7 linked regions of the Homo sapiens genome follow. The protein of the gene in region 3 purifies or fractionates together with the protein of the main gene of each other region. This does not show direct contact. Each region holds a gene or a part of one and is shown on either strand. Other genes may lie near its edges. The genes, in order: CHD1L, DROSHA, EPAS1, CUL2, CNOT7, SOX10 and AKAP8L.

The links.
Region 1: the proteins of EPAS1 (region 3) and CHD1L purify together in Homo sapiens (affinity purification with western blotting; one study listed by BioGRID). This does not show direct contact.
Region 2: the proteins of EPAS1 (region 3) and DROSHA purify together in Homo sapiens (co-immunoprecipitation; one study listed by IntAct). This does not show direct contact.
Region 4: the proteins of EPAS1 (region 3) and CUL2 purify together in Homo sapiens (affinity purification with western blotting; 2 studies listed by BioGRID and IntAct, with this or other methods). This does not show direct contact.
Region 5: the proteins of EPAS1 (region 3) and CNOT7 purify together in Homo sapiens (affinity purification with mass spectrometry, with the first as the bait; one large-scale study listed by BioGRID). This does not show direct contact.
Region 6: the proteins of EPAS1 (region 3) and SOX10 purify together in Homo sapiens (affinity purification with western blotting; one study listed by BioGRID). This does not show direct contact.
Region 7: the proteins of EPAS1 (region 3) and AKAP8L purify together in Homo sapiens (affinity purification with mass spectrometry, with the first as the bait; one large-scale study listed by BioGRID). This does not show direct contact.

Annotation. Positions count from the first base shown.
Region 1 is NC_000001.11:147,277,184-147,280,683, forward strand, and holds part of CHD1L (chromodomain-helicase-DNA-binding protein 1-like), read left to right. Parts: intron 1-2,842; coding exon 2,843-3,008; intron 3,009-3,500. UniProt on the Homo sapiens protein: ATP-dependent chromatin remodeler that mediates chromatin-remodeling following DNA damage.
Region 2 is NC_000005.10:31,466,094-31,469,593, forward strand, and holds part of DROSHA (ribonuclease 3), read right to left. Parts: intron 1,971-3,500; coding exon 1,846-1,970; intron 189-1,845; coding exon 89-188; intron 1-88. UniProt on the Homo sapiens protein: Ribonuclease III double-stranded (ds) RNA-specific endoribonuclease that is involved in the initial step of microRNA (miRNA) biogenesis.
Region 3 is NC_000002.12:46,384,407-46,387,197, reverse strand, and holds the end of EPAS1 (endothelial PAS domain-containing protein 1), read right to left. Parts: intron 2,690-2,791; coding exon 2,538-2,689; 3' UTR 501-2,537; downstream 1-500.
Region 4 is NC_000010.11:35,010,342-35,013,841, reverse strand, and holds part of CUL2 (cullin-2), read left to right. Parts: intron 1-41; coding exon 42-143; intron 144-1,877; coding exon 1,878-1,994; intron 1,995-3,399; coding exon 3,400-3,500.
Region 5 is NC_000008.11:17,229,858-17,233,357, reverse strand, and holds part of CNOT7 (CCR4-NOT transcription complex subunit 7), read left to right. Parts: intron 1-820; coding exon 821-931; coding exon of another isoform or gene 932-937; exon of another isoform or gene 938-1,846; intron 1,847-2,509; coding exon 2,510-2,638; 3' UTR 2,639-3,181; coding exon of another isoform or gene 3,182-3,223; 3' UTR 3,224-3,500. UniProt on the Homo sapiens protein: Has 3'-5' poly(A) exoribonuclease activity for synthetic poly(A) RNA substrate. Its function seems to be partially redundant with that of CNOT8.
Region 6 is NC_000022.11:37,981,756-37,986,005, reverse strand, and holds the start of SOX10 (transcription factor SOX-10), read left to right. Parts: upstream 1-1,450; 5' UTR 1,451-1,667; intron 1,668-2,137; 5' UTR 2,138-2,221; coding exon 2,222-2,649; intron 2,650-4,250. UniProt on the Homo sapiens protein: Transcription factor that plays a central role in developing and mature glia.
Region 7 is NC_000019.10:15,384,489-15,387,988, reverse strand, and holds part of AKAP8L (A-kinase anchor protein 8-like), read left to right. Parts: intron 1-3,500. UniProt on the Homo sapiens protein: Could play a role in constitutive transport element (CTE)-mediated gene expression by association with DHX9. Increases CTE-dependent nuclear unspliced mRNA export.

The sequences.
Region 1 (3,500 bases), on a different chromosome or scaffold from region 3:
AAAAATACAATATAAACAAACTATTGTTAGAGGCAGACTCAGACAAAAGGAAAGAATTTTATTTGTAAAAGTTTGCAAGATGGACTAGGATTGGAAAGGACTAGTCCATCAAAAAACATAAGTGTTTAAGAGAGAAAAAGTGACACAATATTAGAAGCAGAGTTACTAAGTTTGTAATTAGTCTGAAAAAACAGCAGTTTTCTTACATGGTTACCGTATCTGCAAAGGCCAGTGCATATCTTTACATATCAGTGTTGCAAAAGACAGGGATCCTGTTGTTTTTGTTAGGGAGTTAGTAATTACAGGAAAGGCTCAAGGTTTTATTAATTTTGGGACTAGAACTAGAAAGAGTAACACTGGGTTTGTTCTTTGTTTATCTTAGGGGGTAGGTGTGGCTTTTTTCTTTTTCTGACTTTCCTTGTGTTGCTGACTGTGTCACATGCATGCTTAATTAACCATAATGGTGCTAGGGCAGGCTGTACATTTTGTTTTCACACTAAGAGACAATTATAAATGTGAGATGAAAGCTTGAGAGAGAGGTAGAGGTACGCTGTAGATACCCTTAAATGCAGTTTTCCACAGAAAAATTATCCATAGAACCTTAAGAGAGAGAAGGTCACTGCTGGGCATAGTGAAGGGGTAAATGACAGAGCCTCACAAGGCCCGCATTCTCTTGTTAGAGGAGGAAGGATGTCATAGGTTGTTTGCACTCTCCCAGTGGAGGGAGCGCCAGGGGTCCAATGAGGGGTATCTTGTGATGTGGGCTGCTGGACACATCACTGTGAAAGATGTAGACATACCTCCACCCCATGGGGCCACAAACGAGTGGGAACATGGACTGCTGGCTGAGAGCGACTCTGTTGGACTTCTTGCCCAGCTCATGGTTATCGGAAAGTTACTTTCTGACTCTAATGTCTGATTTATCTCTTCCCCATGCAGATGCTATGAGTTATTTGTGGTTACCAAAAGCAAAGGTGATAACCCAGAGCCCTTGTCTAAAAAGAAAGCAGGGGATTTTTGTTTGTTTTTGTTTTTTGGGTTTTTTTTTTTTTTTTTTTTTGAGACAGAGTCTCGTTCTGTTGCCAGGCTGGAGTGCAGTGGCGCGATCTCAGCTCACTGCAACCTCTGCCTCCCGGGTTCAAGCAATTCTCCTGCCTCAGCCTCCTGAGTAGCTGGGACTACAGGCGCGCACCACCACGCCTAGCTAATTTTTGCATTTTTAGTAGAGACGGGGTTTCACCATGTTGGCCAGACTGGTCTTGATCTCCTGACCTTGTGATCCGTCCACCTCGGCCTCCTAAAGTGCTGGGATTACAGGCATGAGCCACTGCGCCTGGGGGTATTTTTTTTTTTTTAAATACCAAGAAACCAAAAGTAAAAGATGTGGTTCTGATTTGGTAAATCTAAGCAGTAGGTATGGAGTTCTGAAGTCCTGAAAGAAGGAAACAGGTTTTTTATCCTGCAGGGAGGACACAGTAGAAACAGGCAGGCAGATGCAGGTGTAGTGAACACTTATTGGATACTGTGTGCTGAGTGTTGTCTGAGGTGCTCTTTTCCAGTTGTTTCAGTAAATAAGAATAACAGCAGGATGAGATAGACACTATCTTTATCCCCATCTTAAGTAATTTGCCCAAGGTTATTCAGATTTAGGATTCCAATCCAAGCACTCTCTAACCTCCGAGCACATGCCCTTAATTACTGTAATATACAGCTTCTCATAAAAACACATGTAATTTTCTTAATGACTAAGACACATTGCAAGTGAGCAATAACAAGGGAGAGCCAGGAGGTGAGCATAAGTACAAGGGGGTGAAAGGGAGGGTCCCAGTATGGACCAATTCTTATCATAAATAGTTGGCTTCCTACTATTTTTGGTACCAGCTGCCAAAGCCAGTCATCCTGGTTATGTGTATGGAGGGTAAATATAATATATCTAGGTACATTCATGCTTAAGTGAGCTGTCTATTGTTTCTTCAAGCTGTTACAGAATACCTTAACATTTCCAAGTTACTCACAAAATAGACGATCTGGAGATAACCCAGTCTAAAAGGGCAAGATGAGAACAAGGGCCCAAGGTTTGAATCCACCTTGGGTCAGGATCTCAGAATTAGTGCTTACGGAGGTGCAAAGTTGGAAGTAGCAAGTGAAAGCCAGGAAAAATTATCTGTGCTTTCTGCATGGTTCCTACAGCCATAGGGAATAGGCTGAGAGTACTCCAGAGAGGGACGAGAGAAGAGAAGCAGGATAGTGCAATGCCAGAGGAACATCCAGAAAAATTCAAACTGAGAAAAGGCCTTCGGGTCTGGTGGTCAGAAGTTGTTACTGATCTTTGCCAAGGTGGTTTCGATAGACCACTGTGTTAGGAAAACAAATTGCCAAAGAAAAGGAGTCAGTTCATGATAGAGGTAAAGTTCCTAGTGTAGCCTTCCCTTTCTAAGGAGTCTGGCAGTGGAGAGGTTGGAAAGTAGCTAACAGGGTCTCTGATCTCAAGTGGCTGCTGGGAATGCTTATGAAAAAGTCAGTGAGAGGTGCTGTAGAAAATGCAGGAAGTTACTATTATTCTTCAAAAAAATTGGAGGCTTATACATTTTTTTTGTTTTGTTTTTATGCAGAATTGTCAAAGTCAATACCTCTGATAATCATTTATCACCTCTCTGCTTACCCATCATCCAACTATTAAATGGCCCTGGCTGTTACTATCTATGATGGGGAGAGCAGAAAGGCTGCCTGTTCATTAGAGAAGGACTGTGCCTGGTGTCGTTAATCCACTTAGCCAATCACTGATATCCTAATGTTTCTTTTCATGAGAATTTGCTGGACTTTTTTGTTTCCTCTATTCAAGTTGAGTGAGATACTCAAATTTGGTTTGGATAAACTGCTGGCCTCTGAGGGGAGCACCATGGATGAAATAGACCTGGAGTCCATCCTGGGAGAAACAAAAGATGGCCAGTGGGTCTCTGATGCCTTGCCTGCAGCAGAAGGAGGGAGCAGAGATCAAGAGGAAGGAAGTAAGTTGGAGGTTAGAGCAGAGCAAATGGCACAACCACCCCAAGCTAGAGCTCACGTCCCCATGGAAAGTTTTGGATGCTGCTCTCTGGGGCATCTTTTTTCTCCCTTACCCTATTGTCATTTGGGCACACTGTTTAAGACTTGCTTGATAAAAGAACGTTACCCAAACTAACTGGAAATTTGTGTGGCTCTTCCCTTGTAGCTGAACTGTGAACCAAAATCATAGTATTAATGTTTATGATAGTATCAATCTTAAGGCTTTGAATTTGTACCTTTTCTCCCTTGGTTGCAAACATCTTCTTCTTTATTAGTAAAGCCTACCATCCTTGGTATGATGCTTTGCACATAGCGATTCCTCTTCTAAACAGTAGAATTACTTGTTTTTAAAATTGCAGCTAACATTAAGCATTTATTTTGCGTTCATCAACAGTGCGGACTTTGTCATGTGCTTTTTCCATTTAATTTCTGTAATCCATGAGATGTAGGAGATG
Region 2 (3,500 bases), on a different chromosome or scaffold from region 3:
TACCAGAAGTATAGTGTGATACAACAATCACGAAATAAACCTGAAGCACATCATCGTTAATCACCAAGGAATGGAGTTTGATACAGACCTCCCTCTGTGCCAGCTTCTGTTTGTCAGTTTGTTTGACTTTGGGACTATTTGCTAGGAGGTGGCGAAGTTTCACATAACTCTTCCACAGTTTTTGGTACCTAAGGAAAAGGACAGGCAAACATCTCAGGTAAAGAGGAGGTAAACCTAAAATGCAACAAAACCAGTTATTTTAAGAGGCCTCTTCAAATCATACATTACATTCTTTTGATTATTCTTAATGGCAGAAAGCCATCATTCTAAGGAAGGCTATGACTTTGAGGCTGAGAGTCAGGATGGACAAGAGTCAACTGGAACCTGGTGATTAAGTTGATTATTGCTTATTTCAGTTGGAAATGAGGTGTGACTATATGAATGAATCTCTGGAAAGAATTCCAAAGACACAAAAACACCTCAACCAAAGGAATCATCCTGTTTCTCACTGTTACCTCTTGAAAATAACAGATTTTATTTAAATATACACTTTCTGATATTTGTTGAAAGAAAGACCCCTTCCTTAGGGAGACTGTCAGTTGCTGAACTACTTATACCAAATATAAGTTGAAGAGTATTAGAATAGAGAACCCCATTTGTGCCAAAACCCAAGCTACATAGCTGTATCCATTTGTCCACTGGAGAGGATAAAAGACTAATGGTGTATACCAATTTGTATTTACCATGACAATATAAGCATATTTGTTGCAGCCAAATAAGTGATAACCTAGACCAGTCTAAAGGATACTGTCAAAGCGTCCTGGAAATGAAGCGAATATGCAGTCCTTTATCAATTCACAGTCCTGCCATCTGAGAGTCCACGAGAGCCTCATCACATTCTACTAACATTTTTCTGACAAGAAGGGATTTTCCAAAGATTTTCTGTCACATTAAAACTGTTCCTTTCTTGGCCTTAGCTGGGCCTCTCCTTTTTTGAAAACTTTTTTTTTTTTTTTTAAGAGAATGGAGGAAAGAAAGAAGTACTTACACAGTGCCTGGTTCACTGCTTCATACTTTTATCCAAAGGGGGAAAAAAAAGAACAAAACCCTTTAGCCTCTTCTAATATATGTCAGCCAGAACTGTATTTATGAATTGAAAATCTCCCATGCCCTTTTCTCCCACTATGAATCCTTTTTAAAAAAAAAAAAAAAATAAGTCAGGAAGCTGTTTGTGTGTTTAGCAAGGTAGGAAATCCAAACAGTCCCGAAGAATCTAATGGTACTATCTCCATTCCCACACATCCTAAATCTTCTCCCAGAAAACACTAACATGCCAGTTGGAAAAATCAAAACGTGGAAAGTTACATCAATCCTAAGAGTCAGAAGTCACGGCTCCTACTTCCAACACAACCTTGACTTTGCATGTGATCTTGAACTCTTAAGATGCCCCCAAAAAGAGAACTCTGCATAAATTCGGCAGTGCTAGGAACCAATATGTGCTACTTTCCTCTAGAGGGCACTGAAAAAATAAAAAATAATAATTATTATTATAAGGATGAATAAAGAAAAAGTTCCTTAAAGTTTAAAAACATACAAGGACTTATGTTGACCAAGTTTGCCAAAAATATTCTATTGAATAATAGTTTCTTGCACTCAAATATGTACAGAAAATAATTCTTCAGGAGCTACCACAATTGTTTCATTTGGGTAATCTAAATTGGAAGTATGGCTCATTTCAGGTCTTAATTTTTAAAAAGGAAACATCCACTAAAGGGTATTTCTCTGCTAATTTGGCTGTTAGTAGAAGGTGAAATTGGCTAAGACAAACACTGAGAAATATCTTACTGTGGGTCTCCTGCATAACTCAACTGTGCAGGGCGTATCCCAAAGTGGACGATAATCGGAAAAGTAATCACATCGGGGTTGAACTGTTCACGATCCAGTTGATCGATACGGACAGAGCTTGGTTTCTAGAGAGAAAAATCAAAGCCATTTATTCCCATAAGAAGTCTTTATGTATTGACTTTAACCTAAGTAGGGAAGGAATAAATCGGACTTTTTTCCAGGAAAGCCTTGTCCCCAAAGGGAAAAGGTCATTTAAAACCCTTTAATTACAGCAGCTATACTATCTAAAAACTATAATGTCATCCTTGTAAATGAGCCTATGCCATTTGGCATAATGAACAATGATTTTGTCCTTTTTTGCAGTCCACATAGAAACCTTTAAAAATTAAACTTTTAAAAGGACACCTAGTCAGATATAACTTTTCCTTAACCTCTCTGAAGGCACAGGGGAAGGATTCCACATCACAGGCAGAGCCTCTTCTGCTTTAATTTCACATTTCAGAATGCACAGATGCCTCTATTTAAGTTTTTTCCCTCACTTGTTCTCAGTGGATCTTATGTATTCCTTTAATTCTACATCTTTAAGTTAGAAAGTATAGTGGTGCAAAGGCCAAATAGTTAAGCTTCTTTTATTATGTCCATGTAGGACATTTGTGTATTTTAACAGAGAGCCTCATATTTTTTTCTTCATGTCTAATAAAGGAAGAAGTGAATGGCTCATTCCTTCTGGATCATTTGTGAAATGGCTTTCATCTTGAAAGCTTAAATTTATGAAAAGATGGTAAAATCACAGAGAACAGGTTTCAGCAACCTCCTTCCTTATAATCACCTCTCAGGACAGTCTCAATTAGAGATTCAGTTTTCACTAGCACACTGTAGAGTCTGCGGCTCAGTTGCTTTGGAGGCTAAGGCTGTTAAAACTGATTCACACAGAGGCCAATAATCTTCATTCTGTCCCACAACAATGCCCAACAATTAGAGTCTGGTTGGCTGCCTGGTTTCCCTGGGACAGAGGAATTTCAATGCTAAAACCAGGAAATCTCTCAGCAACTGGGACAAACTGGTCACTCTACCTACAACTGTGATACCAGCCAGCCATCTGACAAATATTCAATGAGGTGACAAAAGGGATAAACTTGGGTGAATTCACCCACATTACTTAAAACACTCAAACCTTTGGGAGGCCAAGGCGGGTGGATCACGAGGTCAGGAGTTCGAGACCAGCCTGGCCAACATAGTGAAACCCCATCTCTACTAAAAATACAAAAATTAGCCGGGCGTGGTGGCGCACACCTGTAGTCCCAGCTACTCAGGGGGCTGAGGCAGGAGAATCACTTGAACCCGGGAGGCGGAGGTTGTAGTGAGCTGAGATCGCACCACTGTGCTCCAGCCTGGGCAACAGAGTGAGACTCTGTCTCAAAAAACAAAACAAAACAAAAAAAAAACCCCTCAAACTTTTTAAGTGTCATTTAACAAACAAAATGTCACTAGCTTCTTGAAAAGTTGGTCTCTGCTCTCAAAATTTGAAAATGGAAAATATTTTGTTCACATGTAATCCATTATAAAATTATTTAAATGCCCATCAACAGTAGCAACGTGCTATTTAAGGTCAAAGAATTACTTTCATTATTTTGTACAACAAAACAGCAGGATAC
Region 3 (2,791 bases):
TGCTCTGTCTCTGGCCGAGGGGATCTCTGCTCTTCCCAATCACAGTCTACCTGGGAAGACCCTACTCCAGCCCAGCCGCCTCCAAATTGAAGTCCTAATGCCCAGGCTGCCCCTTTCCCTTCGGGACCTCCATCCCAAAGTGCACTATGTGAATATACAGAACAGTGTGGCTCTCAAACGACTTCATGTAATTTTCTGAAAGCAGAGACCATGACTTCTTTCCTTGGGTTCCCCATAGGATACAAAAAATGGCCCCGAGGCACATAGATAGATAGATAGAAAAATACTTGCAGAAATATGGAAGATACAATATGAATTTTCAGACTTAGGCAACTACCAAGTATTTAACACAGTCTTTCCTTCACCAGTCTTATCAGCTCACTTCAGTAGTCTCATAAAGGTCTGTGCTAATGTTCAATTTATATGAACGACTTAATACTTCACTTTACATTGGCATAGCCCATGATAAATCCACAGGAAATAAGAGCCACCAGCAGTGGTAGGATCAGAATACTTTAATAAGATACCAGTGTCAAAATACATTTCCTTATAAAGTTAAGCTCCCATACAGTTATAATGTTGTCAGTAGGAATTCGACAATATAATAACGTTCATGAAATCGTTACGTTGACAGGTAGGGTTAATATGAAGCTTGGAATATTTTTCAGTGTTTTAGTAAAACTGCAAGGGTAAAATGCCCTTAATGCCAGGGCAACACACACAGGAAATCAAATACCAGCATTTACACGTCAGTAACCCTTCAAGTTCTGCCACCCTGTGTGGGGTAATGCCGTGCAGCTAAAATATGATTTACGCAACACCATGACTAAGGAATTTCTCATAGAACTTAAATTTCTTTTGAAAGCTATTTTTTGTTTTTGGCAATAAGTCTATCCGGGCTTACTAAATAGTTGGCCCAATGTGCTTTGTGTGTGTTTTTAGAAACTTCTTCATTGTACCCATTACAGAAAAGTTCCATGTAATTGGTATTGAAAAACCAGAGGTGTCGTCCCTCTTACCCAGGGAGTTGCAAAGTGCTCTGGGAACACTATTTTCAGTGCTTCCTACCTACATGTCACTGACCGACCCAGAGACCTCAGCCAGGGCCTGTGGCTAGGGGCCATCCCTGGAGGCCTTGCGGGGCCATCTGGCTGCCGGCTGAGTGGGGGCTGCAGGGCTGGTCTGGACCAGCTGCTCTCCCGCTGTGCAGCCTCCTCCTCAGTCCAGCTCCACGGGGCTCCAAGGTCGTGAGCTTGGAGGACGTGGACGGGGTCACTATACCATTTTTGACCCCTCATTTGCATGAATTCCCGTCTAAACCATCTCATGGTAGTTCTGGAAATGTCCAAATGTGCCGTGTGAAAGACCATCCGAGTCACATAGCTCAGTGCACTTGAAGGGCTAGCAACAAAACCTTAAGAAAAGTTAGAGCACTTCCCCGCCCCACCCCCCGACCCCACAACGTGCCATCAGACCCTCTTGGCAGCAATAATAATAATACATACATACATAGTACATAGAGAATGTGAGGGGATAGCGCGCAGTGCTCCCGCTGAATGACTCCACTGCTCGGATTGTCACACCTATGGCATATCACAGATGGCAAAAAGCCGACAGAGGGAGGCCTTCCACAGTGTCCGTACAGGCCGTGGGAGCACTGGACAAGTCTGCAGTGTCCACAACACTAAGAAAAATTAACAGCTTCGAAAAGATCTTAAAGTGATTTTGTGAGCAGGATTCCATTTCCGTTTCTAAGTTTTTAGATATTACAAAGTACCCATATATATGATAAACACTTAACCCAGATATAAATTTTCTCCTCTTTTAAAAAACTCAGTTATGTTTTTGAATAATAATAAAAAATCCACCAAATGCGGGGGAAAAACACCAGTTTAGGAAAAGCCACGCTGTGCAACTTTCACAGATAACCACATACGTTGGAGTTGACCCTTCACATTTCTTTTTTTCCAAAATTAGAGCAAAGAGTCAGCTTAAACAAAAAAAAAAAAACCCTGAAATTTACAATATGGTGATTAGTTTAAAAAAGAAACGAGAAGGGCTCTGCGAGGGAGACGCCACAAACCAAGCTTGGAAAGCAAAATCATTTTTGTTTCTCTTTGGCAACAACAATAACGAGGAATCTTTTTAGTAAAATGAAGCTAAAGCTTCTCCCTACAGAAGAACAGACATGCACCAAACTTGTTAGTATGGACAGTTGTGTGTGAGAAGGAGAAGGAGGGAGAGAAACCTATGGATAATATAAATTAGAAGTCATTGAAGGTGGGGAGGAAAAAAATCCTACAAAATTTAAGAACATTTCAGAACAGGTAAAACAATTGTGTACTTTAAAAATAGGGATAATAAAGTGAGCATCTCAGAAAAAGGCCACTGCTTGGTGACCTGGGCAAGTCTGCCAGGTAAGTCCATCTTGTAAATAGTGTGCTGGCGTTAGAAATACCTAGTTGCAAAAACAGACGGAGAGAGTGAAGCTGGTGGGACGGCGTCGGCAGAGGTGCTGCCCAGGTAGAAGGCCTGGCTCAGGTGGCCTGGTCCAGGGCTCTGAGGAGGTCCCCTCCTTGCAGGAGCGTGGAGCTTCCCAGCACGGGCACGTTCACCTCACAGTCATATCTGGTCAGTTCGGGCAGCAGGTAGGACTCAAATGAGGGCCCGAGCAGCCGGCTTGCCATGCCTGAAAGAAGGGTTGGTACCATAACTTAAAGGCCTAAATCGAACATTTGGAAAAGTGTCTACTTCTTTGTGACTGGGGGATACCAATAGAGCAGCCCTAATT
Region 4 (3,500 bases), on a different chromosome or scaffold from region 3:
TTTGGTTTTTATAAATATAAATGTTTTATTTTTAAATGTAGGAAGATATTGATGCAGAATCTTCGTTTTCATTAAATATGAACTTTAGCAGTAAAAGAACAAAATTTAAAATTACTACATCAATGCAGAAAGACACACCACAAGTAAGTGCTTTTAATGTCAAGTTTTTTTTGAGGGGGAAACATTTAAGCATTGGACTTTACAAGTGTTTACATTGAGATTGTGCAAAACTTTGCACAGCAAAATTAATAATGGGATATGTCTTTTCTGGTTTGTTGTTGGCATTTATTAACCTTACAGTCAAACAGAAATCTCTACTTGTATTTTAGTTTTTTCTAAGGAAAAGGGTATGGTTTTGTTGTATTTGCTCTTAAACCATTAGAATGTGTAACTATGCATTCTCTCCGAAAATTCCCACATTGAGAAGTAATAAAATTTCATATTTTTCATTTGTAAAATAAGGGAAAGTTCTCCAGTTCATTTTTTTTTTTTTTTTTGAGACGGAGTCTTGCTCTCTCGCCCAGGCTGGAGTGCAGTGGTGTGATCTCGGCTCACTGCAAGCTCTGCCTCCCGGGTTCACGCCATTCTCCTGCCTCAGCCTCCTGAGTAGCTGGGACTACAGGCGCCCACCACTATGCCTGGCTAATTTTGTTTTTTGTACTTTTAGTATAGACGGGGTTTCACTGTGTTAGCCAGGGTGGTCTCGATCTCCTGACATCGTGATCCGCCCGCCTCAGCCTGCCAAAGTGCTGGGATTACAGGTGTGAACCACCGCGCCTGGCCTACAGCTCATTTCTTTCAAAGAAAATTTGTCAGTAGAAAATGCTTCTTAAACTTTCATATGCAAATGAGCCACCTGGGCATCTTGTTCAAATGCAGATTGTGATCTAGTGGGTGTGGAGTGAGGTACTGACAGGCCAGTGTGAGGAGGGGACTTCTGCTCTTCATTATTTTAACTCAGCAGTGATTGTTGCTTTGGTCTGGGATAGACTGTTTCTATCACTTATGCTTCCTGATTGCCTCCGGTGTGCAGTCCTTGGGCTGATGCAGGATGTGAAGATAATATAAGATGTTAGACCCTCTCCAGAAACTTAATTCCCGATGGGGGGAGACAAATATTAACTGCCATTTACTTTGAAACCTAAAATGGTCAAGATTCCATTTTCCTCCAGGCTAATAAATAATAATTTGCAATATATAGATTGTATTTTGTCTTTGAAACGCTGTGAGGAGATCCTCTTAATGTGGCATGGTCTGCTTCTATGCCTTGCTTCTGTGTTTCTTGAGCTCCGTGGAGATAGGCCCCCTCTCCTGGCTTCTCTGCTTGAGCCACATAAAATGCCACTTCACAGCTCTTCCCTTTGAAGCCTGATCCAGTATGCATTTGGAGCTAATTACTGCAGTTGACACAACTCCATCTAAAAGCGTCATGAAAGATTCTGTAATCACTGATAAGAAAATGATCTTGCAAATTATTGCTGTGTCCTCCTTTATTGCCTCTTTACCTTAACAGTACAGTTTACAATAATGTAAATTTTTTTCTAATCTTTCAACTTTAACCCTAGAAATTGTAGATGTTTTAGCAGTGGTTATGTGATATTGGCACAACATAACTATATAATTTGCTCAATATTGTGGTGCATACCTGTAATCCCAGCTGCTCAGGAGTCTGAGGCATGAGAATCACATGAACCCAGGAGATGGAGGTTGCGGTGAGCTGAGAGCGAGTCACTGAACTCCAGCCAGGACGACAGAGTGAAACCCTGTCTCAAAAAAAAAAAAAAAAAAGTATTTGCACTCACTGATAAAATGAATTGAAAACAAGTTCAGTGACTTAATGTCTTGTTGGGTCTTTTTTCTTTTCTTCTGTAAAACAGGAAATGGAGCAGACTAGAAGTGCAGTTGATGAGGACCGGAAAATGTATCTCCAAGCTGCTATAGTTCGTATCATGAAAGCACGAAAAGTGCTTCGGCACAATGCCCTTATTCAAGAGGTAAAAGGAGGGCAGTCCTCAGGGCTTCTTAGGGTAGAGGGCATTGTCATTGTACAGATTCAGTCTCTTTCTTCTTAAAGAGGATACAGAAATAACCTGATCCTCAGATAGCATAAAGAAATGTTTCATACTTAATCAGAATCGTACTCACTCACAATTTCAGTATTAAATTCAGATTTGCAGGCTGGGCACAGTGGCTCATGCCTGTAATCCTTTTTGTTGTTGTTGTTGAGACAGAGTCTTGCTCTGTCGCCCAGGCTGGAGTACAGTGGCGTGATCTTGGCTCACTGCAACCTCTGCCTCCCAGGTTCAAGTGAGTCTCCTGCCTCAGCCTCCCGAGTAGTTGGGAATACAGGCGTGCACCACCATACTTGGCTAATTTTTGTATTTTTCGTAGAGACAGGGTTTCACCATGTTGGCCAGGCTGGTCTCGAACTCCTGACCTCAGGTGATCCACCTGCCTCGGCCTCCAAAAGTGCTGGGGTTACAGGTGTGAGCCACCATGCCCAGTGGACACCTGTAATCTGAATGTCTTGTTAGGCCAAGACAGGAGGATCACTTGAGTCCAGGAGTTTCAGACCAGCCTGGGCAACACAGGGAGACCCCATCTCACCTAAAAAAAAAAAAAAAAAAAAATTAAAAAATTAAAAAATTAGCCAGTTGTGGCGGCACACTTGTAGTACCAACTACTTGGGAGGCTGAGGCGGGAGGATTGCTTGAGCCCAGGGATTGAGCCTGTGTGACACAGTGAGATGCTATCTCAAATGATAATAATAAATTCATATTTGCTTTGGCTTTATTTTAGAGGTCTAAAACTTGCTGATTCATTGAGTCTTCTGTCCAGTTATTGAAGGAAATTGACCCATCAGATATTCATTCATTCCATAACTATCTGAGCCTACCATGTGATAGACAGCTGGGCTGGTCCCTGGGATATAGCACAGAGCAGCTGAAGATATGGCAGGCTTTTTTGGAGTTCACAGTTTAATGGGGGAAGAAATACACTATTGAAATGATATGCAAATAAATGTAAAATTACATTAGCATGCACTGAAGGAAACGTATACAGTACTATGAGAATGTATTTAAATATCCTGGCCTAGGGGCTGCTGGGGAAAACTTTCTTGAGAAAGTGTTTGAACTAAGAGCTGAGAGTTGAGTTAAATAGAAGCTTGGGGTTGTGTGTGAGTACTTAGGTTAATTAGTTTATTGTTTCACTTAATTATGTATCATTATTAGATTTTGCTGTATCCATTTTCCACATTGTAGTTCCTATTTTCATACTTAATTTGGCCCATTTGTTGAAACCTCAGTACATTTGAGGCACTTTAAACTGATTGGTTAAAAGTCATTACTTAATAGCTGAAGAACTGGCAGTAGTTTGACTTCCACATCTCTTCCACAGGTGATTAGCCAGTCAAGAGCTAGGTTTAATCCCAGTATCAGCATGATTAAGAAGTGTATTGAAGTTCTGATAGACAAACAATACATAGAACGCAGCCAGGC
Region 5 (3,500 bases), on a different chromosome or scaffold from region 3:
TTTAGCGCAGAAGCAACTGCTGTGCAAAGCCTTGTTTCAAGCTGTGATGCACAGAAGGGCCATTTTGCCGGTGGAGGCCTTAACAAGTTAGAGAAGAATTTTTGTTTTGTTGTTGGTGTTTCTTTCCTTCACGCTCTACTTATTCTCCCCTCCCTTTACTCTCCTTGCCTGTCCTCCCACTTTCTTTCCTTCTGTTACTGTCTTTCTCTTTCTTTCTTTCCACTCTTTCCACTCTCATCTTTCTTTTTTAATCTTAGGAGTATTAACATAGGTGGATTATAGCAGACCACTCTAAGGAGTTGTGTGCATATACTCGTCTTAACTAAGAAAACCATAGTGAAGCATTTAGCATACTCTTAATGATTATTCATAATGGCTTTGTTTTGTAAAAATTAAGTGAAAACTACAAATGGATGGTGGGAAGTTTAAGAAAATATGAAAAAAATGGTGTTATACTAGCTTTTCAGTTTTATAATTATTACTGGATTGATAGACTATGAGTGTACTTGATAAATATTACCCTATATGTGGTCTGCTTCCTTCCCATATCTAGGAGAGTATTTACCTGTCATATGCCCTAAAACATGATGAAAATACATTTTCCCAATTAGGATCTTGTTTTCTATTAAATGATACTTTTTCCGCATTCAACAAATACATTAGTAATTCACATTCTCTGTTTCTTCCCCCCAATCTTTATAAGATTCACCTTTACATACTAAAGTTTATTTTTATTTTGGTCAGCGTCTAAGTTTATAATTTGTGAATTTAGGCCTTGTAAGATTTTTCTTCTTGACAAGCAATTTTTTATTTTTTCTAGGGTGGATTACAGGAGGTGGCAGAACAGTTAGAGCTGGAACGGATAGGACCACAACATCAGGCAGGATCTGATTCATTGCTCACAGGAATGGCCTTTTTCAAAATGAGAGAAGTATGAAGACATCACTGCCTTTTTCTCAGTTGGTTGTTAGGTTGAGAACATTAAAAATCTTGTGGCCAAAGATTTTGGGCAACAAGTACCTACTAAGTAAAGATATAATTAGAGATACCATATGAGTCACATCCACCACACTTAAAAGTATTCAAAAATAAGTCATCTTGAAATGTAGTTCAGAAGGAACTGGGAGAACATGTTCATCATAGAACCAACAATTTTAAAACATAAACTACCTGAGAAGTCATGTAGGTCCAACCATATTATTTCTCAGGTGAGAAAACAGGCTAATAACTTCCATGATTAAACACATTACTAGTGGGAGAACTCCAGAGTTCTTTTCTGACTCCCATTGGTGCTCCTCCTACAAGGCAAGGAATCTTTATATTAGGTTTATTCTAGCATGACCCCTTTTAAGGTTTAAACTGGTGATAAATATATTATTTGCTCATGTCATTCTTCAGTGCTTTGAAGATTTTATAGAGAAGAACTCAGGCTCTTTTACTGCATTGAGTCTTAAAAGGGGGGTTGAATTCCGAAGGGATCAAATAAATCCAACGTAGTAGTTGCATCAGAAACCATATTAGGAAAACCCTCCTTAAACGGCAAAAGGCAGAGATCAGTTCCTTGAGTATAAAGTGTTAGGGATGGAAGAATGAAACTAAATGAACCCATTATCTACTCCTAAGTAATTAAGTGATGTGCACAGATACACCTAGCTATAGGTAAACAGGAAAATTGGTTGTGCAAAAAACAAGTGAGGTTTTTCTTGACTATAAGTTTTCCCTTTTGGAAAAATTCGCTGTGGATTTGAGTATATTTTCTCTTAGACATTAAATTGAGACTGAGAATTTAAAACTTTTTGTAGCAATGTATTGATAATAGAAAGCATTAAAGCTGTTTTGCTAAGTAGTGTTGTTGATTCAGAAGTGATTTGGACTATCCATTCATGACACGTAAATATTTTGTTTTGGACTCCTTCCAATTGTTTCATTAGATAATTGAAACAACCTTTTGGATTTTTTAGCTTTGCATTTTAAAAATGTCTTAATGGTTTATTTAACTAAAGGTGGATTTCTGGCACTAATTTATCTTTATTTTTCTTGGCTTCTTCAAGGACAGTAATAGAGTGTGAATGTTTGGATTTTACTGTCCATGACTTTATGGTTTGATCATTTATAGCCAGCTCAGCCTTGCATACAGATTTAAGACAGTTTATGAACCTAAACTTTTTTTCCCCCACCATCATTGGCTTTCTTCATTCTTGAGTATTGTTAAATTAATGGAATAGTTATTTTTCCATGATGAAAAATTCTTATAAAAATGGTCTAAATGGAAAAGACATGCATTTATACACTTTTTTTGTAGTCTCTTTCTTTGGTTTCTGAGCTCTGTACTTTTGAGGACATTAGTCTTACTCATTGAACTGAAATGCGTAGCCTCAAAGGAACACCATAGAAAAGAGCCATCATTATTGTCAGTGAACAGTCAGTACTTACATTGCTGAAATATAAATTACAAGTGGTTCCTTTTGGTTAAAATTATCTTTTTTTTTTCTTCAAAATTCCTTTTTAGATGTTCTTTGAAGATCATATTGATGATGCCAAATATTGTGGTCATTTGTATGGCCTTGGTTCTGGTTCATCCTATGTACAGAATGGCACAGGGAATGCATATGAAGAGGAAGCCAACAAGCAGTCATGACATGAAATAGTCCTTTTATTTTTATTTCGAGCTACACACATGCTTGTATATAGGTTTTATCTCTGGTTGAATCCCTCGAACAATAGACAGTACCTTTCCCCCCCCTTTCATGGCCCATTTTATTGTCTGCCTTTCAGTACTAAGTATGACCGTTCCTATCTCAGATCTTAATAAAAAGAAAAAAAAAAACGCATTCAGGTTAAATTTGGCCTTAATTTAATATACTTGTTAGCAAGCGTGTGTGACAGAGAGTGGGGAAAGCTACATCATTGAATATTTTGATAAACTTTACCGACTTGAGTTTGGTTTATTTTTCCCTTTTCCTAAATTAACTAGCACTGACTGTAATTTATTTCCCTGTTTCACGTCTCTCCCTTCCATTCTGCAGGAGTTTTAGCTATTTGAGATCGTGGACCATCAGTTTTGCACTTTAGAGAGTGTTTCTGACTCTAAACCTGTTTTATCAGAAAATTTGTTTTTTCTTGATCTTAGCTGGAAAAATCTGCCAACTTTACACAGTATTTACTTGGTTTTGACCCACAGAATATAGCACGTTGTGCAAACTGTCGATTCAGCGAAACTTAAAAAAGACAAGAAACTACTGAGGAGCTTAGTAACTGCTGTTTCTGTACGTAGTGTTTAATCTTCCAAGCACATCTAGTGTCTGTCAGTTTCTAATTGGCATGTGTAGGCTGCTCTGTGACTGAAGAATTTTCAAACCAGCTTTACACCCTTCAGGAAAAATCCCTTGTGATTGGATGTTTACTATCTGCCAGGAAACTGGTACTCAAGATGTTGAAGCTACAGTTATTTTATGATAGCACACTTCCCTTGATCTGCTTATTTTTATTCCATCACCATT
Region 6 (4,250 bases), on a different chromosome or scaffold from region 3:
GCGCCGGGGGTGGCGTCGAGGAAAACTGGGGGGAGATTGTCCAAGGCCAGCAAGCGAGAGAAAGAGAAAACCCTTATCAAACTCCTAATTCACTGGGCTCCGAGGCCCCAGACACACTGGCCCGATTGTCTGGCTGGTTGTGTGTGTGAGCATGTGTGTGTGTGTGTGTGTGTGTGTGTGTGTGTGTTCCAGTGTCTGCTCCCCCCACCCCCAACATGCCTCTGCCTCGTGTGACTACCTCATTGTGTCCCATTTCCCACCCCCTACACCCCTTTGGACTTTCCCAAGCATGAGGCCTTGCCTCCCCAGACCCTTTGCAGCCCACTCCAGACAGGACCCCTTGGGGTGGTCTTGGGGCTTTGCCCTGCTGTTGAGGAGCTCAGAACGTCACATGGTTGCCAATGCGACCCCAGCTCCATTACATAACCCACATACACCCCACCTCGGCCTCAACACCCCGGCGGGGCTGCCCTCAGTTAAGAGAACAGCACTGCGACCTTTGGAGGAGAGGCCAAGGAAAGAGAGAGAAAAAGGTGTCAACGGAGGATGGGCAGGAAAGAAAAGGGGAGGGAGGGAGAGGTGGGCAGAGGAGGGAAGAGGCAGGGCAAGTCCCCACCCCTTGTTGGGGTGGGGGAGTAGAGGACTTCGTGACAATCAGGACTAGGACTCCCCTACCCTCTCCCAAGACAGGGTGAGCCCAGTGTGGAAGGAGCTGGGTCCCAGTAGGTAGCAACCCAAAATGCCTCTAAGACCTACTGAGAGAGGGCCCCCAACCTGTCCCACCTTGGCCTCCTGGCAGCTTTAGTCTTGTGTTTCCACCTTGAACCAGACCAGAACGCGCGTGTGCTGGGTGTCTGCAGAGAAGGGACCAGGGGTCAAGCTGGGGCTCTGCACTTCTCAGAGGGATCCCTGAGAAGTCTCTCTTACTGTGCAGGATGGGGCAGAAAGGGCTGCCTGGGAAAAGGTAGGAGGCAGGGTGAGGAGCTGGGCATCAGTGCCTGGCACACACTAGGCACTCAACAGGATTTCGCAGACGAAGCAGCTAGGGCCAGCCACCCTCACGGGCCCCCAGGACCCTCACCGCCTTCACGTCTCTCCCTAGTCCCCTGCCAAGTGCCCATCCTGCCACCTGAGGCAGACGTTAGGAGTCCTGGTTGGGCCCAATTTTCTTCCATCCAACAGGTTCTGACCCTCCAGCCTACATCTCTTCCTTCCTCGGCCTAACCTCCCCTCCACCTCCCAGACTAAGCCCAAGATAAGCCTCAGCAAGATGGGCCTGGGCAGTAGGGCAGGGAGCTGGGTGGGGGGGCCTGGGCTCCGGGTGGAGGAGCCCTGAGTGTTGGGGATGAAGGAAAGCCTGGAGGCTCCACCTTCTGCCCTTCCCTCCCTCCTCTCCCCTCCCCCCTCTCCCCCTCCTTCCTTCCCCAGCCCTCCGCAGCGGCTCAGGCTCAGTCGCTCAGTCAGTCTCGGGCTGTCCGGCCAGGGTGGTTGGTGGTAAGGATTCAGGCTCCGTCCTAACGAGGCCGTGGCCTGAGGCTCAGGGCCCCCCGCCCCTCCCTCCCAGCCCACCAGCGTCACCTCCCAGCCCCGAGCTGGACCGCACACCTTGGGACACGGTTTTCCACTTCCTAAGGACGAGCCCCAGACTGGAGGAGAGGTCCGAGGAGGTGAGTGCGCAGCCTGCTCCTCCCTGGCCCGCCCAGGCCTGGGACCCTGCTGTGAGGTGGAGAGAGGCGACACCCCGCCCTTGCCCCCCACCTGGCTCTCCTCTAAACCCCGTTGGGGCAGGCTGAGGGAAGAAGGAAAGGTGAGAGAAAAGGTGGGAAATTCCAGGGGCCGGGATTAGAGCAAAATAAAGGCTCCGTTTTTTTCTTCCTTATCATCAACAAACCTCCACCCAAAAAAGGAGGCTAAAAAAAAAGCCACCCACACCAAGAGACGGTTGGGACCAGGTGGTGGGAAGACACAGAGGCGGGACGCACCCACCTAGAGTCTGGCATGTGCGTGGGCCCCAGGGGCCAGATGGGTTTAGCTGGAGCAGGAAGGGCCGCCACCTCGGGGCTGTGCCCACGTCCTGTCTCGGGCCGCCCTCGGGGCTGCGCGCGCGGCCGCTCCATCGCGCCCTCCTTCCATCCAGGTGGGCGTTGGACTCTTTGCGAGGACCCCGGCGGCTGGCCCGGGGGAGGCGGCCGAGGCGGCGGCGGCGGCGGCCGGGGGCGACATGGCGGAGGAGCAGGACCTATCGGAGGTGGAGCTGAGCCCCGTGGGCTCGGAGGAGCCCCGCTGCCTGTCCCCGGGGAGCGCGCCCTCGCTAGGGCCCGACGGCGGCGGCGGCGGATCGGGCCTGCGAGCCAGCCCGGGGCCAGGCGAGCTGGGCAAGGTCAAGAAGGAGCAGCAGGACGGCGAGGCGGACGATGACAAGTTCCCCGTGTGCATCCGCGAGGCCGTCAGCCAGGTGCTCAGCGGCTACGACTGGACGCTGGTGCCCATGCCCGTGCGCGTCAACGGCGCCAGCAAAAGCAAGCCGCACGTCAAGCGGCCCATGAACGCCTTCATGGTGTGGGCTCAGGCAGCGCGCAGGAAGCTCGCGGACCAGTACCCGCACCTGCACAACGCTGAGCTCAGCAAGACGCTGGGCAAGCTCTGGAGGTGAGCACCCGACCGCCCCCCGGGCTCGGGCCCTCTAGCTTCGGGTGGATTCAGGGTAGCCGAGGCGGCCCGGCCTCCTGCACCTCAGAGCGGGACTGTCTGGCAGTCCTCCTTGGATAGGGCTGGAAGACCAGGTGTGGGGGCCGCGCCCGCCCTTCCATCACAAGGACCCTGGAACTCGGAACTCCAGCGGCCTAGGCCGGGTCTCCCTACGGGGCGGCGGGCAGGAAGGCGCCCCCTCGTGGTTGGAATTTTGCGGGTGGCAGACCGTGGGGCCTGGGGCTTTGGAGGGAGGGAAGGAGGCCTTCACTAACTCCTGCCCACAGATACGCACACTATGCCACCAGCTGCTGTGGTCAGGAGGATACGAGGGAAACGCTTGGAAAGAACCAAAGGGTTGGCTGGAGATTCAGGGAAACTGAGGCAGTCAGATGGAGAACTCAGGGGAGGTTTAAAGAAAACGGAATTCAGATGAGAGTCTTTGGAAGAGTGAGGGATGAAGAACTGCGGGACAAATCTGCTGCTGCGGGACCTCATCCTATCCTAGGGCTCTTCCCTGGGACTTTCTGACGCCACCCTCCTTTGAGTTGGGGGCTTCTTCATCCTCCTAGGGAGAGGACACACAGTAAGGGGCTCCCCCTCCTGCCCTGCCCCAGAGTCACCAAGCTGATCTCTTTCCTCCCTCTCCCAGTTCGGCGCCATCTTCCCTGCCAGGGCCCCACCCCAACGTTGAGCAACCTCTTCCCCACTGCCCCAGAGCTGGAGCTGAGCACTCTGGCCAGAAGGAAACCTTGGCCTCCTTCCTGCCCAGGGGCCCTCAGAGTCCCAGGTTCCCTGGGACCAGCCCACACCTCTAGGAAAAACATCCCCCGCAGGGAGCAATTATCCCACCCTCGACTCAGGTCTGGGGTTCAGCCAGGCCTCCTGGGGATGTGTGGAACAAGACAGTCCCCCACTCCCACCCGGGAGTGCCAGAGCAGCTCTGAAAGAGACCAGGGACTCCAGGAGATGTGAGCCGGTAGCAGTCACCTGATTCTCGCTAGACTGACCAAGAGACAGGCCCAGAAAGGCAAAGGAATCACAAAGGTCACATAGAAGTTGGTAGCAGAGCCAGGGCCAGAACCCAGGACTCCCATACTCTCTGTCCAGAGGACTTCCCCTGACCCTGGTGACAGTGGTGGATCACCTACACTTTGAGGAGTGGTCAGGAGGTTGGGGGGAAGCAAGAAGATGAGAACAAGAGTGAGGAGCATCTGGGTTCCAGAAAATTAGGGCTTTGTCAGAGGAGCCCGGCTCTCTTCCGCTGCCCTCCCCCTTGCCAGCCACAGTTGGGTAGAGATTGGGTCTAGAGGCTTAGAGTGGTAGAAGGTGCAGGAGGATCTCCAAGAGACCAAAAGATTCACATCCCGCCCCCTGGCCTGTTCTTGCCATGTGTTTGCTGAAGACCTGGTGCCCCTTCCCCTGCCCCTTCTCAGCCCTCAGTGCCCTGCTCACCCAGGGCAGGCCCAGGGCTCAGCGACCAGCCCGCTGTGTGGACCCAGACAGCCCAGTTCTGCCCAAGAGCAGAGGTCACAGCTAGCTCCTCCACCCAAGGTCCATCC
Region 7 (3,500 bases), on a different chromosome or scaffold from region 3:
TTTTCCCCTCCCCTCCCCGCCCCCTCTCCCAGACAAGAGTCTTGCTCTGTTGCCCAGGCTGGAATGCAGTGGCGCGATCTTGGCTTGCTGCAACCTCCACCTCTCAGGTTCAAGCAATTCTCCTGCCTCAGCCTCCCGAGTAGCTGGGATTACAGGCATGTGCTACCACGCCCGGCTAATTTTTGTATTGTTAGTAGAGACGGGGTTTCACCATGTTGGCCAGGCTGGTCTCGAACTCTTGATCTTATGAGCCACCCACCTCAGCCTCACAAGGTGCTGGGATTACAGGCGTCAGCCACTATGCCAGGCCCAAGAGGGATGGTTTTTGAGGTGGTTGTTTGAGATTTATTCTGAACCCAGGGAGTCTGTTCTTAGCTATTTCACTGGTCCTTGTCCTCTTTGGTAACCTAGTTAGCCTATGGGTTAGCTAATATCACTGTCAAATCTACCGGTCCTTCTTTTTTATGGCTGTGTGGTGGGGGAAAAAAAAAAGGACAAAGCTATCAGTGTTTAACTCCAATAAATATTCAGAAAGAAAAAAAAAAGCTATCAATGTCCTTTTAATTTTTTTCCTCCCTAGTCTCCATTGTTTTTGAGAGAGGCCCTAGTCTTGCACTTCCCAACACTCTTGCCAGTGAAGTCAGTCAGTTCCTTTGAGATTGGGAGTTTACTGATTTAAGGCCGTGCTCTCACTGTGGGCAGAATCTCTGAGCCAAGGCTCTGGGGATGGAGACAATGGAGTACCTCTCTCTGAGTGACTCTGCCACTTTAGGAGAGACATGGGAGGAGGTACAGTAGGCTGTAGCCTCCGGTCTTGGTTTGCCTTTCCTGGCATGGGACCTCTGCTTTATGAACAAGCCATGGGTATGTGAGCCCTTATATTCTTAGTGTGCCATGCCCAGGGTCAAGCCTCCATTCCACGTGCGTGTGGCTGGGTAGAAGATAGGAACCGTTCTCTCTCAGCTATGCTTGTCTAGAACTTAGCCTCATCAGCAGGTAGCTGGGGGCGGGATGAGAGATACTGACATCCGGCTGGGTACAGTGGCTCACGCCTGTAATCCCAGCACTTTGGGAGGCCAAGGTGGGCAGATCACCTGAGGTCAGGAGTTCAAGACCAGCCTGGACAACATCGTGAAACCCCATCTTTACTAAAAATACAAAAATTAGCCGGGCTTGGTGGCGGGCACTTGTAATCCCAGCTACTCGGAAGGCTGAGGCAGGAGAATTGTTTGAACCCGGGAAGTAGAGGTTGCAGTGAGCCGATATCACGCCATTGCACTCCAGCCTGGGCAACCAAGAGTGAAACTCCAACTCAGAAAAATAGATGCTGACATTCTGTTCCTCCTGGGAAGATATCATACCCCTTAACTGAGATGATCTGGGTAGATGCGGGCAGACCTGTCTTCTTGGCTGTACTGTCTGGAGTGGAGTTTCCATCACACTAAGCTGGGGGAGGCAGGGATGCAATAGGTTGTGTTTCAGACATCACAACTCTTCATGGAACTGAGTTTTAGTAGCTTTTCCTCATTAAATCTTTCTCATAGGGCTGTATGTCCTTAGGAACATTTTCAGAGACTTTAAATGGTTGTTTTTTAATACTTTTCATCAGTTTCACTAGGGAGTGTTCCAGGGAACGCCTCAGACTGCTATGCTAGAGTCTGTCCTCTCAATATTTAGGAAGCTTCTTAAACCTTAATTCCAAAATTCTGATAAAGATGATACCAAAATGAAACTGTAGATTAGTTTACTATTATTAAAGATATGAAAGTGGGCTGGATTGGCCGGGCGCGGTGGCTCATGCCTGTAATCCCAGCACTTTGGGAGGCCGAGGCAGGCGGATCACGAGGTCAGGAGATCAAGACCATCCTGGCTAACACGGTGAAACCCCATCTCTACTAAAAATACAAAAAATTAGCCGGGCGTAGTGACGGGCGCCTGTAGTCCCAGCTACTCGAGAGGCTGAGGCAGGAGAATGGTGTGAACCCAGGAGGCGGAGGTTGCAGTGAGCCGAGATCGCGCCACTGCACTCCAGCCTGGGCAACAGAGTGAGACTCCTCAAAAAAAAAAAAAGAAAAAAAAGAAAGAAAGTTGGCTGGATATAGTGGCTTATACCTGTAATCCCAGCACTTGGGGAGACTGAGGTGGGAGGATCATTTGAGCCCAGGAGTTCAAGACCAGCCTGGGCAATATAGTGAGACACTGTGTCTATAAAATTAAAAATAAAAAAATTAGCCAGGTACTGGGGCCTGTGGTCCCAGCTACTTGGGAGGCTGAGGTGGGAGGATCACCTGAGCCCAGGAGGTTGAGGCTGCAATGAGCTGTGATCGTGCCACTGCATTCCAGCCGGGGCAACAGAGCAAGACTCTGTCTCAAAAAAATAAATAAAATGAAGTGCTAAATAAAATATTAGTAACTATCAATCTAGTAGTGATCCCTATGTATGATACATTATAAGTAAGGTTTGTTTCTGGAATGGAGGGATGGTTCCCTAAGAAATCTAGCAACAGTTGCCGGGCGCGGTGGCTCATGCCTGTAATCCCAGCACTTTGGGAGGCCGAGGTGGGTGGATCACGAGGTCAGGAGATCGAGACCATCCTGGCTAACACGGTGAAACCCCATCTCTACTAAAAATACAAAAAATTAGCCAGACGTGGTGGCGGGCGCCTGTAGTCCCAGCTACTCGGGAGGCTGAGGCAAGAGAATGGCATGAAAGGCCGGGCGCGGTGGCTCACGCCTGTAGTCCCAGCACTTTGGGAGGCCGAGGCGGGCGGATCACGAGGTCAGGAGATCGAGACCATCCCGGCTAAAACGGTGAAACCCCGTCTCTACTAAAAACACAAAAAATTAGCCGGGCGTGGTGGTGGGCGCCTGTAGTCCCAGCTACTTGGGAGGCTGAGGCAGGAGAATGGCGTGAACTCGGGAGGCGGAGCTTGCAGTGAGCCGAGATCCCGCCACTGCACTCCAGCCTGGGCAACAGAGCGAGACTCCGTCTCAAAAAAAAAAAAAAAGAGAATGGCATGAACCTGGGAGGCGGAGCTCGCAGTGAGCTGATATCGCGCCACTGCACTCCAGCCTGGGCGACAAAGCGAGACTCCGTCTCAAAAACAAAAACAAAAAATCTAGCAATATTATTGGTATAATGCAAACTCTCTTTATGTGCAAATAATGTGATTATGCTCTTAGAAAAGCTGAATGATCCCAGCAAAATGTTCTTAGAATTAATAGAATTTGGTAAGGGGATGGGATTCAAAATAGCGTACAAAAAGTCGTAGTGTTTCTCTATTCTAGTATTAACCAGTTAGAAATTTAAATGGAAAAAAAACTACTTAAAATAACCACACAATGTATGAAATAGCTAAGAATACAGATTTAAGAAGAAAGACTTGAGGGCCAGGCATGGTGGCTCATGCCTGTAATCCCAGCACTTTGGGGAGGCTGAGGCGGGTGGATTGCCTGAGGTCAGGAGTTTGAGACCAGCCTGGCCAACATAATGAAACCCT